2 linked regions of the Homo sapiens genome follow. The protein of the gene in region 1 interacts with the protein of each later gene in a biochemical or structural test. Each region holds a gene or a part of one and is shown on either strand. Other genes may lie near its edges.

What was found. The genes of interacting proteins can lie anywhere in the genome.
Region 2: the proteins of OLR1 (region 1) and CCT4 form a complex in vitro, tested with the Homo sapiens proteins (one study listed by IntAct).

Annotation. Positions count from the first base shown.
Region 1 is NC_000012.12:10,162,127-10,169,165, forward strand, and holds part of OLR1 (oxidized low-density lipoprotein receptor 1), read right to left. Parts: coding exon 6,948-7,039; intron 4,832-6,947; coding exon 4,586-4,831; intron 1-4,585. UniProt on the Homo sapiens protein: Receptor that mediates the recognition, internalization and degradation of oxidatively modified low density lipoprotein (oxLDL) by vascular endothelial cells.
Region 2 is NC_000002.12:61,871,618-61,878,656, forward strand, and holds part of CCT4 (T-complex protein 1 subunit delta), read right to left. Parts: intron 5,898-7,039; coding exon 5,776-5,897; intron 5,436-5,775; coding exon 5,303-5,435; intron 4,618-5,302; coding exon 4,478-4,617; intron 1,677-4,477; coding exon 1,580-1,676; intron 1,496-1,579; coding exon 1,385-1,495; intron 972-1,384; coding exon 841-971; intron 700-840; coding exon 465-699; intron 1-464. UniProt on the Homo sapiens protein: Component of the chaperonin-containing T-complex (TRiC), a molecular chaperone complex that assists the folding of actin, tubulin and other proteins upon ATP hydrolysis.

The DNA.
Region 1 (7,039 bases):
TCTACATGTTTATGGATGCTTTCAGGAACCCTCAAATCATCACTATCATCACCATCATCATCATCATCTCTCCCATCTCCTTAAGGGGAAACAAAGTACTCTGGTCTACACTACAACCAAAAGGTGAAAAATTAAAATCTTTGAGAAAGGCAGCATTTTAATTTCATTCTCACTGTGGCATAAAACCACTAAATAAATGTATAAGAGTAGGCTTTATCAGAGAGGAGAAAATAGGAGGGACTGAAAAACAGAAAAAAGTGAATGAGAAAGAGCATACAAAACACTAAGTTGATTTTTCACCAAACTGATGCTTATGAAAAGAAAAAGAGACCAAGTTGAAAGCAGTCAATGCAAGCTTCTTACTTCTTAGTTTGCCTAACCCCATCATATTATGTAAATATAAATATATGTACGTTTTTGGCTGGGGGTGGTGGCTCATGCCTATAATCCCACCACTTTGGGAGGCTGAGGTGGGTGGATCGCTTGAGGCCAGGAGTTCCAGACCAGCCTGTGCAACATGGCGAAACCCCATTTCTACAAAAAACACAAAAATTCACTGGGTGTGGTGGTGTGCGCCTGTAGTCTCAGCTACTTAGGAGACTGAGGTGGAAGGATCACTTGAACCTAGGAGGTGGAGGTTGCAGTGAGCTGAGATCATGCCACTGCACTCTAACCTGGATGACAGAGGAAGACTCTGTCTCAAAAAATATATTTAGATGTATATAAGTTTTTTGTGGACTAAAAAGACAGTCTGGGCAAGTTTTCCCAGTTATGACAAAGTAAGAAGGACACATTACAAAATGTAGTATTTAAACTTACTGTATTTCTTTGTGTGTGTGTGTGTGTGTGTACACAAAAATAAACAGAGTAAGTGATATTTGTGTTTGTTAAATTATATAACAATACAAATATCACTTACTATGTTTATTTTTTATATAATTTAACAAACACAAATATCACTCACTATGTGCCAGAAACTGTTGGAAGTACTGTACAGGTATTAACTCATTTAATCCTCACAGTATCTCTGTGAGATAGGTTCCAGTCATTTTCTTCATTTGACAAATAGAGAAGAATCTGGACCTAGATAATGTAACTCTAGAGTCTGGGTGTTTCACCACTATAACATACTACCTTTCAAACTTCTAAGTTAAAACCATTTGAGGAAGTGTTTCTCGGTGCTGCTCTCGAGACATTTTGATACAGAATCTTGAGGTAAATCTGTAATCTGCCACTTTTAACAATCTATTTACATACAGTAAAGTTTGAGAATCACCACAAATTCCATTGCTAAATGTGAAGTCTATTCCTGCAAAGGCCCTGCATCTCACTAGCTCGTTGGCCTAAAGCAAACATATAATAACCTCTCAGCATCTCTCCCTCCTCATATATACATTGAAGACCACAGACTTTTTAGTAAAAAAGATAAAACTTGCCTCAAACTGGAAAAACTTGGCTTTTTTTTTTTTTCTGTATGTGGTATTTTAGTATTACTTTTTAAAGACTTCTCAAAGCTCTTTGGTGGGCCGGGCCTGGTGGCTCACACCTGTAATCCTAGCACTTTAGGAGGCCAAGGTGGGTGGATCACGAGATCAGGGGTTCGAGACCAGCCTGACCAACATGGTGAAACCCCGTCTCTACTAAAAATACAAAAATTAGCTGGGCGTGGTGGCAGGCGCCTGTAATCCCAGCTACTCAGGAGGCTGAGGCAGGAGAATTGCTTGACTCCGGGAGGCGGAGGTTGCAGTGAGCCTAGATCGCACCACTGCACTCTAGCCTGGGTGACAGAGCGAGACTCCGTCTCAAAAAAAAAAAAATGCTCTTTGATGAAAGGCAAAACTTTATTTGCTATCTCTACTAATTAGCCTTTATCTGACACTGTCAAGGAATGGAACATGTTACTTGGTATATCTGCCAGCATCAGACATATCACTTATTGTTTTTTATTAGTTGTTCATCCAGGGCATCTCTGGGAGATAGTTCTGAATGGTCCTGATGTAGATTTAATCCCATACAACTGATAAAGACAAAATTCTCTTCTGGCCTTGCCTGTGATATAAACCATTGGTTAGTACGTGGTTATGTCCGCTTTTATAAACATTCCTATCCTTAATAGATAAACTTTCTCCCTTTAAGCCTTCTTGAAGGTGGTATATTCATTTCCTTGCAAGCTCCAACTTTAAAGAGATTAAAAATGTTTGACACTTGCTAAAAATTATTTTGTTCAAAAATTTCTGCTAATTTTGAAAATGTAAATGACCTCTAAATAGTGAAGGGATTTACAAACTGCAAAACCTTACACAAAATTACTTTTTATTATCATTTCACTTTATCCGGGTCTCAGTGTTCCACCTATCAAGGAAAAGCTTAGGTATCTGTGAACTATTATTATATGCTCTTTATTCAAATAAATTATGTGGTTGAGATTAAGTAAATTGTGCAAGCAAGAAGCTAGAGAGATCTCTGTTTATTAGAGGAAGTTTTTCTCTAATCCTGACAATAGGGCACTAATTTACGCACCTCCAAGGAAACAAAGTACCTCTGAATGACTCTCTCTCACACCTTTTAACTCTCCCTATGCCTAAAACCATATACCTGATGTAATGACATACTGCAGAAAGACCAAATAATACAGTAGCTTCTGTAACAATATCAGAGTTCACATCATAGTCTTCTTATAGATGCTACTATTTCTGCCTGCCTCTGGATTCTGAGTCCCTTTAGACGGCTAAAATTAACTCATTTCTTCTTATATAAATAGACTTCTTGGACTCCTCATATTTTTGTCTAATCTGAAGTATCTGCGTAAGGCTTGCAAGCCAGTCTACCTCCATTGGCTCTATTTAAATTGATGGGCCCGGCACAGTGGCTCACACCTGTAATCCCAGCACTTTGGGAGGCCGAGGCGGGCGGATCACCCGAGGTCAGGAGTTCAAAACCAGCCTGGCCAACTTGGTGAAACACCATCTCTACTAAAAATACAAAAATTAGCCAGGTGTGGTGGCGGGTGCCTCTAATCCCAACTATTCGGGAGGCTGAGGCAGGAGAATCCCTCGAACCCGGGAGGCGGAAGTTGCAGTGAGCCGAGAATGTGCCACTGCCCTCCAGCCTGGGGGACAGAGCGAGACTCCCTCTCAAAAAAAAAAAAAGAAAATTGGCCGGGCGTGGTGGTGGGTGCCTGTAATCCCAGCTACTTGGGAGTCTGAGACATGAGAATTGCTTGAACCCTGGAGGCGGAGGTGGCAGTGAGCCGAGATCAGGCCACTGCATTCCAGCCTGGGCGACAGAGCGAGACTCCATCTCCAAAAATTGAAATCAAATAAAATAAGTTGATGTAGTACACTTTAAGAAATAATGCCACAGAGTGAGCTAATGTAGAGTTAGGGGTAGACAGTTGCAAGGACAAAAAGATCCCTTAGAAAAAGAAATACAGTGATTAAAATGCATTGGAATGGAAAGAGATAAGGATCTATGGAATGGGGTGGGGGTGGCAGAATTCTTCAAGAAAAATGTCAAAACTGCTACTAGGGAGGCTGAGGCAAGAGAATCACTTGAACCCAGGAGGTGGAGGTTGCAGTGAGCTGAGATCACACCACTGCATTCCAGCCTGGGTGTGACACAGCGAGACTGTCTCAAAAAATAAAAAAAAAGAAAGAAAAATCTCAAAACTAAAATTTTAAAAAGAAGAGGCTCTTATAAAGAAGGAAAACTTAAATCCACCAAAAGGTATGCTTAATTAAATCAGATTTTTCAAGGATTTGACACAGCATAGGGTGGTTCTGATTAAAAATTTAGAACTTCTTGCCGGGTGCGGTGGCTCACACCTGTAATCCCAGCACTTTGGGAGGCTGAGGCAGGCGGATGACTTGAGGTGAGGAGTTTGAGACCAGCCTGTTCAATATGGCAAAACCCTGTCTCTACTAAAAGTACAAAAATTAGTTGGGCATGGTGGCTCATGTTTGTAATCCCAAGCACTTTGGGAGGCTGAGGCAGGAGAACTGCTTGAACCCAAGAAGCAGAAGCTTATTGAACTGAGATCACACCACTGCTTTCCAGCCTGGGTGACAGAGCAAGACTCCGTCTAAAATTAAAAAATAATAATAAAATAAATAAAAAATTGACCGAGAGCGGTGGCTCATGCCTGTAATCCTAGCACTTTGGGAGGCCAAGATGGGTGGATCACCTGAGGTCAGGAGTTCGCGACCAGCCTAGCCAACATGGTGAAACCCTGTCTCTACTGAAAATACAAAAATTAGCTGGGCGTGGTGATGGGAGCCTGTAGTCCCAACGACTTGGGAGGCTGAGGCAAGAGAATCACTTGAACCCAGGGGGTGGAGGTTGCAGTGAGCAGAGATCACACCACTTCACTCCAGCCTGGGCAAAAGAGCGAAACTCCATCTAAAAAAAAAAAAGAAAAAGAAAGAAAAAGAAAAAGAAATTGAGAACTTCTTGTATAGAACATTATGAATGAATAATGATATGCATAACAATAGACCAATTTTGAGCCCAGAATTGTTTCCAAAAAATAGTTATGATTGGACAGAAAGCTTCCACTATGTCTCCTTACCCACCCTTCTCCCAATACCTGAACAATTTGCTACTCTCTTCAGTGTTTCTTGGAGATTCAGATTCTGGTGGTGAAGTTCCATTTGCTCTTTGGATTTCTCATTCAGCTTCCGAGCAAGGGTTTCTATCATTTCCTTGAGTTCGTTTTCTGACTCCTGTGAAGCTTCTTCTGCTTGTTGCCGGGCTGAGATCTGTCCCTCCAGTTTCTTTTTCTGGTGAGTTAGGTTTGCTTGCTCTTGTGTTAGGAGGTCAGACACCTGGGATACTGAATCACAGTTGCATTAAGACTCTAGTTCTAATCCAAATAAAAATCCCTCCAGGGACTTTTTGAGGAAATCAAAACAGAATTAAATCTATTTTGACAATAGATAAGCTGCTGAAAAATGACCCAGATTTACTCAGAAGTTACAGATTTGGAGGTTCTTGAATATTCCTGCAGTATTTTGTTTAATGTCAGGAACATTGCAAACACTTGTAATTTTTTTAAAAATTACCAAGATTTTGGCCAGGCACGGTGGCTCAGGTCTGTAATCCCAGCACTTTGGGAGGCCGAGGCAGGCAGATCACGAGGTCAAGAGATAGAGACCATCCTGGCCAACATGGTGAAACCCCATCTCTACTAAAAATACCAAAGAAATTAGCTGAGGGTGGTGGCACGCGCCTGTAGTCCCAACTACTCAGGAGGCTGAGGCAGGGGAATCACAGTGCCACTGCACTCCAGCCTGGCGACAGAGGGGGACTGTCTCAAAAAAAATAAAAAACAACAACAACAACAAAAAAAACCCAAGATTTTTTTTTATTGAGTTACAAATGAAAAGTAATCACAAGATAACCAGTACAGCATTAGAATAAATAAAATAAGGAAAACCTGAAACAGACACCCACCAGACTCAGTGACTATTAGTAGGAAATGTCATTAGCGATTTACTCTATTTATGTCTCAATTCCTCTGCTGTGTCTCCTCCCATTCTGTCTACTCTTCCAGACTTCCTAATTTTAAGAACTGTGACATACACCCCTTTTTTGAGACAGCCACGCACACTGTGTCACAAGAGTCTCCAAGAATTTTTTCTTTTCTTTTTTTTTTCCCCTTGGCCACGGTACATTTTAGGAAGGGTGAAGATAAAGTGAAGGTTGTGAAATCAAGCAGGCGATAACATGTTAAGGGTCAAATGTCTCAGTTCCTGAATTTTGATGGTGCAATACAAAGCAGACCGCTTGGTTTGAAGGCAGCTTTGATCCTGTTATAAGATGATCAAAGGCTCAAAAGATTTTTCTGGTCACCACCACTAAGTCAAGGGCACTTCTCCTTGTCACTAGGAAAGGCCCTAAGTATTTACAAATTTAAAATAAAATAGTTTGTGAGCTTGAACAACAGTTAGGAAGCAAATAGCACTTCAATGGCCATAATAACCTGGATCCTGGGTAGCCTAAACAACTCAGTTCTACAACCTAAATTCACAGGCAGTTCAGGTGAACGTTGGGCACCATTTTCTTTCCTTCTTGGCCACTCTGGGCCATCTTTTCACTTCTTTTTTTCCCTCAATATCTTCTCTTTTCTAAATGCTCTTATTATAAATGTGAAATATATTTTATTTTAAATGTTTTATTTATTAAGATTGTGTTTCTGGTTCTTAACATTAAAATGGTATTTAATTATCTCTATCAAAACTCAGCAAGCTAAATAAAATTTCTTTTACTTTTGGGCCTCTCAGATGATCTTGGATATTAGTAACTTTAAGTTATTATCTTCTCCATCATTCTAGAATTTAAATAGGCTCTATCCATGAGGTTGGTTTTTTGTTTGTTTGTTTTGTTTGAAATGGAGTCTCGCTCTGTTGCCCAGGCTGGAGTGCAATGGTGCAGTCTCAGCTCACTGCAAATTCCACCTCCCCGGTTCAAGCTATTCTCCTACCTCAGCCTCCTGAGTAGCTGGGATTACAAGCATGTGCCACCACACCCGGCTACTTTTTGTATTTTTAGTAGAGATGGGGTTTCACCATGTTGGCCAGGCTGGTCTTGAACTCCTGACCTCAGGTGGTCCACCCACCTTGGCCTCCCAAAGTGCTGGGATTACAGGTGTGAGCCACCGCACCCGGCCTATCCATGAAGTTATGAAAACAAAAGAAACAAAACAAAACAAAACAAACAAACAAAAAAATGCCTACCAATTGTAATTTTTATTTCATGGCTCTATCCATTGGAAGATGAACAATATACCCCTTTATTTTCATGGTCACTCTTAAAAACATTTTGCCTAAAATGAATCTATATCAAGGCTGTTTGTAGTTGTTATGAAAGAAACTTATAAACCATATTTATTAACCTCATTTCCAACACCCCTGCCCCAATAAACATCAGTTCCGTATTTTAGCACTTACATTGCATGCCCAGCACCATAATGGTCACTACTAATCCCAGGCAAAGGACCCCTAGAGTCGCAGCAGCCAGGCACCACCATGGAGAGTAAAGA
Region 2 (7,039 bases), on another chromosome or scaffold:
ACAAAACATTAATAAAAAGTGATATTATTACCATATGATTACCTTACACAACTACATTAGCTCATGCTAACTAGGGCAATGATTTTTTATACAGTCTTTAGTATATGCCAAGCATCTATCTAAGAGCTTGTTAACTAGAAATGCATTTAATTCTCACAACAGGCCTATGAGGGAACTATTAATCATCCCTGTTTTTACACCTGAGGAAACTGAGGAACAGACTAAGTAACTTGCTAAAAGCTAGTCAGTAAGTGGCAGATTTAATGAACAAATAATACTTCCCCCTAAGGTGTCACCATCTTCCTTCTCACTCAATGGCATAGATTAATTAACATGCAGCAGGCCTCATATTTAAATCCAAGATTATGCTTTTCATTACAGAGCTTTCCATTCAACAGATGACTACAAAGCTTTTAATATTTTAAATTAATCAATATTTTCTACATTAGAGATTAAATGATTACCTTTCGGACATTAATGCCTGCAGTTTTTTCTCCCTGGGCATGCCGGTTTCTTAGTTCTGTTACTGTAGAAATGGGATTCAGGCCGGCATTTTCAGCTAGTGTAGATGGAATGACCTCCATAGCATCTGCAAAAGCACGAACGCAGTAGGATTCCATACCACTCAGTGTTCGTGAATATTCAGTTAATCGTAGGGCCAACTCTATTTCTGGAGCACCACCTCCTGCAATAAGAGCCCTGAAATTCACAAATATATTTTTAGCTTATTTTATCCAAAAGAAAATTATTTTTAATAATTTGCTATTTATATCTTTAAAAAATAGAATATAATAGTTTTAATGTTCAAAATGTTACTTAATAATGTAACACTGACATTACCTCTTCTTCACTAAACAACGAATAACACATAGGGCATCATGAATGGAGCGCTCAGCTTCTTCAATCACCAGTTTGTTAGAACCACGAACAACAATTGTAACTGTTTTTCCAGGGCTGGCACAGCCTGTAATCTTCAGTAAACAAATTCCAAATTAAGTATTTGAAGGGTCAAAAAAACCCCACACCCAGGCCGGGCACGGCGGCTCACGCCTGTAAACCCAACACTTTGGGAGGATGAGGCGGGTGGCTAACGAGGTGAGGAGATCGAGACCATCCTGACTAACACAGTGAAACCCCGTCTCTACTAAAAATACAAAAAATTAGCAGGGCGTGGTGGCAGGCGCCTGTAGTCCCAGCTTCCCGGGAGGCTGAGGCAGGAGAATGGCATGAACCCGGGAGGCGGAGCTTGTAGTGAGCCAAGATCATGCCACTGCACTCCAACCTGGGCGACAGAGTGAGACTCCGTCTCAAAAAAAGAAAAAAAACAACCTAAAACCCCATACCCAAACCTAAGCAAATAAAAATTTAAGTGTAATACTGTTACCTTGAGCAGTTTGCCAGAACCATTTAAATTGACCTCCTCAGCTAACTCAGCAGAACCCAGCATGTCAGCAGTAAATTGGTCAATATGAGCAACTGGCTTGGTTCCAATTGTCTGGAAAAAACAGTCAAATCCACAAATTAAGACATTTATCTAATTATCAGACATTTTCCACAAATACAGATGTTAATGTTTTACCTTACAAATGAATTCAATGTCTTCTCTTTCAATATCCTTAATCACCATGATCTTCATTTTATTCAGAAAGTGTAATGCAAGATCACTAAGAGCATCTCTAAAATACAAAATCAGTGATTATGTCAATGCTAGATTAAAAAAATTTTGCTCTTCAAATGCCTTTAAGGTTTTAATTACTGTTTCTTAAATGGCCAATCATTATTTCTGAAGAAAAATGCTTTAGTTTACTAAGTTCGTAAGGTCAAAATTAAGATTTCCAATTCTATTGGAAATTTTAGTACAATTCCAGTATTAAAATGTACTCTGTCCCCAATGACACTATAAAACACACGAAATAACTAGGTCATTATTTTTTCCCCATTTATTTATTTATTTTTATTTTTTTGAGATGGAATTTCGCTCTTGTTGCCCAGGCTTGGAGTGCAATGGCACGATCTTGGCTCACTGCAACCTCAACCTCCTGGGTTCAAGCGATTCTCCTGCCTCAGCCTCCCAAGTGGCTGAGACTACACGCTCCCGCCACCACACCTGGCTAATTTTTGTATTTTTAGTAGAGACGGGGTTTCACCATGTTGGCCACGCTGGTCTCGAACTCCTGACTTCAGGTGATCCACCCGCCTTGGCTTCCTAAAGTGCTGGGATTACAGGCATGAGCCACTGCACCCGGCTCATTTATTTATTTTTAATAGAGACAGGGTCTCCCTATGTTGCCCAGGCCGGTCTTGAACTCAGGGCTCAAGTGATCCTCCCACCTCGGCCCCACAAAGTGCTGGGATTACAGGCATGAGCCACTGTGCCTGACCTCATTTTTCTTAACAAATGAGCACATCTTGGGAAGTGAAACCTTATTAATACTTCATGAATTTAGAAGTATTAATTCAGACTCCACAAATTTACACTTCCCCATGAACTGTGAATAACAACTCTGTGATACTAGAAAGGTAGATATTACTACTATCCCTATTATACGGATAAGCAAACTGAGTTTGGGGGGCAATTTACTCAAGGTCAGTAGCTATTATATGATTGGGATTAGAACCAAGTCTTCTGAGTCTTCAAAGACTATATAAAATGAACATCCACAGTACATTCTGGCACATTAATGGAGTAAATGGGAATGCGTCTATTAGGAAAAAATACTGGCCAGGCACGGTGGCTCACATCTGTAATCCCAGCACTTTGGGAGGCCAAGGGGGGGCAGACCACGAGGTCAGGAGTGCAAGACCAGCCTGACCAACATGATAAAACCTCATTTCTACAAAAATTAGCCAGGCGTGGTGGCACGTGACTGTAATCCCAACTATTTCAGGAGGCTGAGGAAGGAAAACTGCTTGAACCTGGGAGGCAGAGGTTGCAGTGAGCTGAGACTGCGCCATTGTACTCTAGCGTGGGTGACAGAGTGAGACTGTGTCTCCAAAAAAAAAAAAAGAAGGAAAAAAGTGATCTGTCAAACTTCAGAGAATTCTTTTCATCTATGGACTATGCAGAGCATTCCCCCAAAAAGTACCTCTAAATGACAAGGCAAGCAATTGCATAGACCTTTAAATAAATTCCACTTTTAACTAGGTAATTAATTCTGCAACATGGCTTTTAAAAGAACAAGGCTTGATGTTTAGGACCTTGGTCTAGGTAAGATTATATATCCTACATTTAAAAGGGAAGATAGGGCCGGGCGTGGTGGCTCATGCCTGTAACCCCAGCACTTTGGGAGGCCAAGGCTGGCGGATCACCTGAGGTTGGGAGTTCAGGACCAGCCTGACTAACAGAGAAACCCCGTCTCTACTAAAAACACAAAATTAGCTGGGTGTGGTGGCACATGCCTGTAATCCCAACTACTCGGGAGGCTGAGGCAGGAGACTTGCGTGAACCCAGGAGGCGGGGGTTGTGGTGAACCGAGATCGCACCATTGATTCCAGCCTGGGCAACAAGAGCGAAACTCCATTTCAAAAAAAAAAGGAAGATTACGCACTTTTTATCAAAACATAATAATGCTTTTCCAGCTTGTAACTGCAAGGAAAAATAATGATACTGCTAAAAAAAAAAATGCAGATTTCTGGTGGTTTACCCAACTCAAATGTTTCTATAAAAATTGCTCTTAGAGGCTGGGTGCGGTGGCTCATGCCTGTAATCCCAGCACTTTGGGAGGCTGAGGCGGGTGGATCATGAGGTCAGGAGATCGAGACCATCCTGGCTAACATGGTAAAACCCCATCTCTACTCAAAAAATACAAAAAATTAGCCAGGTGTGGTGGCACGTGCCTGCAGTCCCAGCTACTCGGGAGGCTGAGGCAGTAGAATCACTTGTTGAACCCAGGAGGCGGAGGTTGCAGTGAGCCGAGATTGCACCACTGCACTCCAGCCTGGATGACAGAGTGAGACTCTGTCTCAAAAAAAAAAAAAAAAAAATTAAAAAAAATTGCTATTAGAAGTGTGGTTTAGACTCTAAAAACTGCATGCTTTCTTGGCCCTGTTCCTTAAGGGCTCCACCCTGAAGCCAATAATCGAAGAAATAAGTTTTTTAAAAGGCCAAAACACAACATTCTGGCAGTTAGTTGGCTATTTTAAAAAACCTACTTTTTTTTGTAAAAGAAAATTACACCTTTATTGTTTTGAATTTACAAGTCATATATTTGTTTAAAATGCTTTTCCTAGACATCTTAACTGAACTTATACCATTTTTTCCCTTGGTCTGAGCAAATGATGGTACAATATTGAGGCCTAACATTTTACCTGTGCTTTTAAAATAAAAATTCTCCATTTCGTTTCACCTAAGAGTTGTCTGTTAAGAAATACGAACTTAGAGTAAGTGCTTAAATCATATATTTTATCAGAAAAAATAAACTGCTAGTGGAGATCCAAAATTATCATTAAGGGATGAACAAAATAAATAGCCCCACACCTTAGAATAGATTTCTGTATGAGAAGGACATTACATCCTGTTTTTTTAATTTGCTTCACTAAATTTAAAATATAGGCTCTCTCTTCTCGCAGCACTCGGTCCATCTGGGCATAGTCAGAAACCACTATTTGATTATCCATCTGTTCAGAAAAAGAACATCATAATTTGCATTGTAAGATATTTTAAGTTTAAAAGTAGAATTTTAAGCGAAAATACTATGTGTTGTATAAATTCAACCAAAACTATATCAAGTAATAAATTATATAGACATGCATAGAAAAGAGTCTGGATTAAGATACACATCCCAAACTTGAGTCTTTTATTTTCAACTAAGTACACTGGTATCTTACATTTTGCAAGTAAATTTTTTATAACCAAAAAATATAAAATGGTTACCCTAGTTGTTTTCAAAAGATAGGGTCCCTCTCTAATCTGTGTGAATTTGTAAATTAACAGCAACAGTGAAAAGATGGGGTCCCACTATGTTGCCCAGGCTGGAGTGGAGTGCAGGGACTATTCACAGGTCATGGAATAGCACCCTGCAACCTCAAACTCCTAGGTTCAAGCAATTTTTCTGCTTCAATTTCCCAAGGAGCTGGGACTACAGGCATCGTTGCAAATGGCTAGCTCTCAATTTCAATATCCCAACTGAGGATACAGACTTGTCACTTGTGGCACCAACAATTACTATTTTTGTCTCAATTCTAGTAAGTCTTTTGAGATCTGCTTTAAATCACTAGTAGTATTTTCTATTTTTAATAAAGAAATGCCTGAGTTATTAAAAAGTTAAACACAGAGAACCAATTTCATTTGGATTCTACTTACGTCTGTTTTGGGAGCAGATAAGCAAAACTGAATAAGCCCAATCTTGGCCTTTTCAACTCTGGTTATGCCAGAATTTGACACTTTTTGGGTGAGAACCAGCCCTTCCACCAACTCACAGTCATCAATTGTCCCACTAAGGATAAAAGAAAACAAAGAGGGGTAGTTAAGAGGGAGTGGACATCTGTACGTTTAATAGATGAACAGATTAAAAGTCATCAGTCCAATAAAATATGATTCAGCCTCACATTTATTATTGCCCCACTCCTGGATCTCTTTGATCCACTGCTGCCTTACTATCATAAGGTAACATAAACAAAATCTCCAGATGCCCATACTAATACAAATTCTCACGAAAACAAAACCAAAAAGAGAAAAGAGAGCTTTGTGACTTTCATCTAGGTGTTTTTATTTATTTTTGGCAATCTGATGCTCATTTTCAAATTTTTATTCAAGTTGTAATTAGAGATGCTTACCCAAGCTTCTTAACTATTTTAATATCTCTAAGATCTACACTGGTGGCTGTGGCTGGGTCAATCACTTTCATCACTGCATTTACACTCATTGGAGAAAGCAGACTTGAATACTGAGAAACCACCTAGAATTATTAAAAAAAAAAAAAAGTTACCTTCACAGTAGAAAAAAGTCCTAATTTTTCAATGACAAAGATACTTAAGAAAGACTCTTATAATTTTTGCAGTGGGGTGTGGGTATGAAGAGGGAAACACTCATGAGAAGACAGTCCATAAAGTGTCTTTTCCATTCAGGTTGTCACCAGGGGCACAAAATAAAAACATGTATGCTTGCTTTTTTCTTTTATTAATATAATAGCCGGGACTGTAGAATATCAAAGTTTTACAGGAAATCCAAAAAGCATAAATTTAATTTTACGTGAGTATTTTCTATCTAAAATGAATGTGTGATGAGGCATCAATGTTATGTATGTACATTCCTGATGAGGGGTTGATAAAAATTGCTAACATTTATCAATCACTTAACATATGCCAGGCAGTGGTCTTAGAACTTTACATATTAACTCATTCAATCTTCAGATGGAGAAACTGAAGCCAAGAGGTTAAGTCATTTGGCCAAACAGCGTAGTTAAGTGGTGAAGTCAGTACTGAACAAACACAAGCAGTCTAGACTCAATGCCTAGTGCTTGTAACCATTACGCTATACTATCTGTATTAGTTCTAAGGACATCCAACAGTATCACTTAGTGTCCCTAACACTACCTAACATTCAAACAAAATGAATGTATGGACTTAATACTGATTTTTAAAAGGAAAAAGGATTAGGGGAAGGAAGGGATAAACACAGGATATTACAGAAAACAAGTGACATGAGTTCCAAAGAAATTTAAAAGCACAACACCGCTTTAAGTTTGGTAAATAAGAAAAGCAGCATAAGTATTAGTTAAGGGATGGACCACGATGGGCAGCCTGTCCTGGGTTCAAATCTCAGCTGTTTCTGTTAGCGGTCCTTGGATAAGTTACTCCTCTAGATCTACTCTTTTCATCTATAAAATGGGGATATGACTATCTGAGGGCCTTGAAGAGGACAATAAATGTAAAAAACTTATCACAATGCCCACCATATTAAATATTCAATAAAAATTAGCTATACTGCCAGTAATCTATGGCAGTCTTTCTGATTTGGTGGAGGAAAAGGTTTCTTATAGGCAAATTAAAATATCTAGCTTTATCAAAACACTGTTACAATGCATTAAACAGAAAAGTG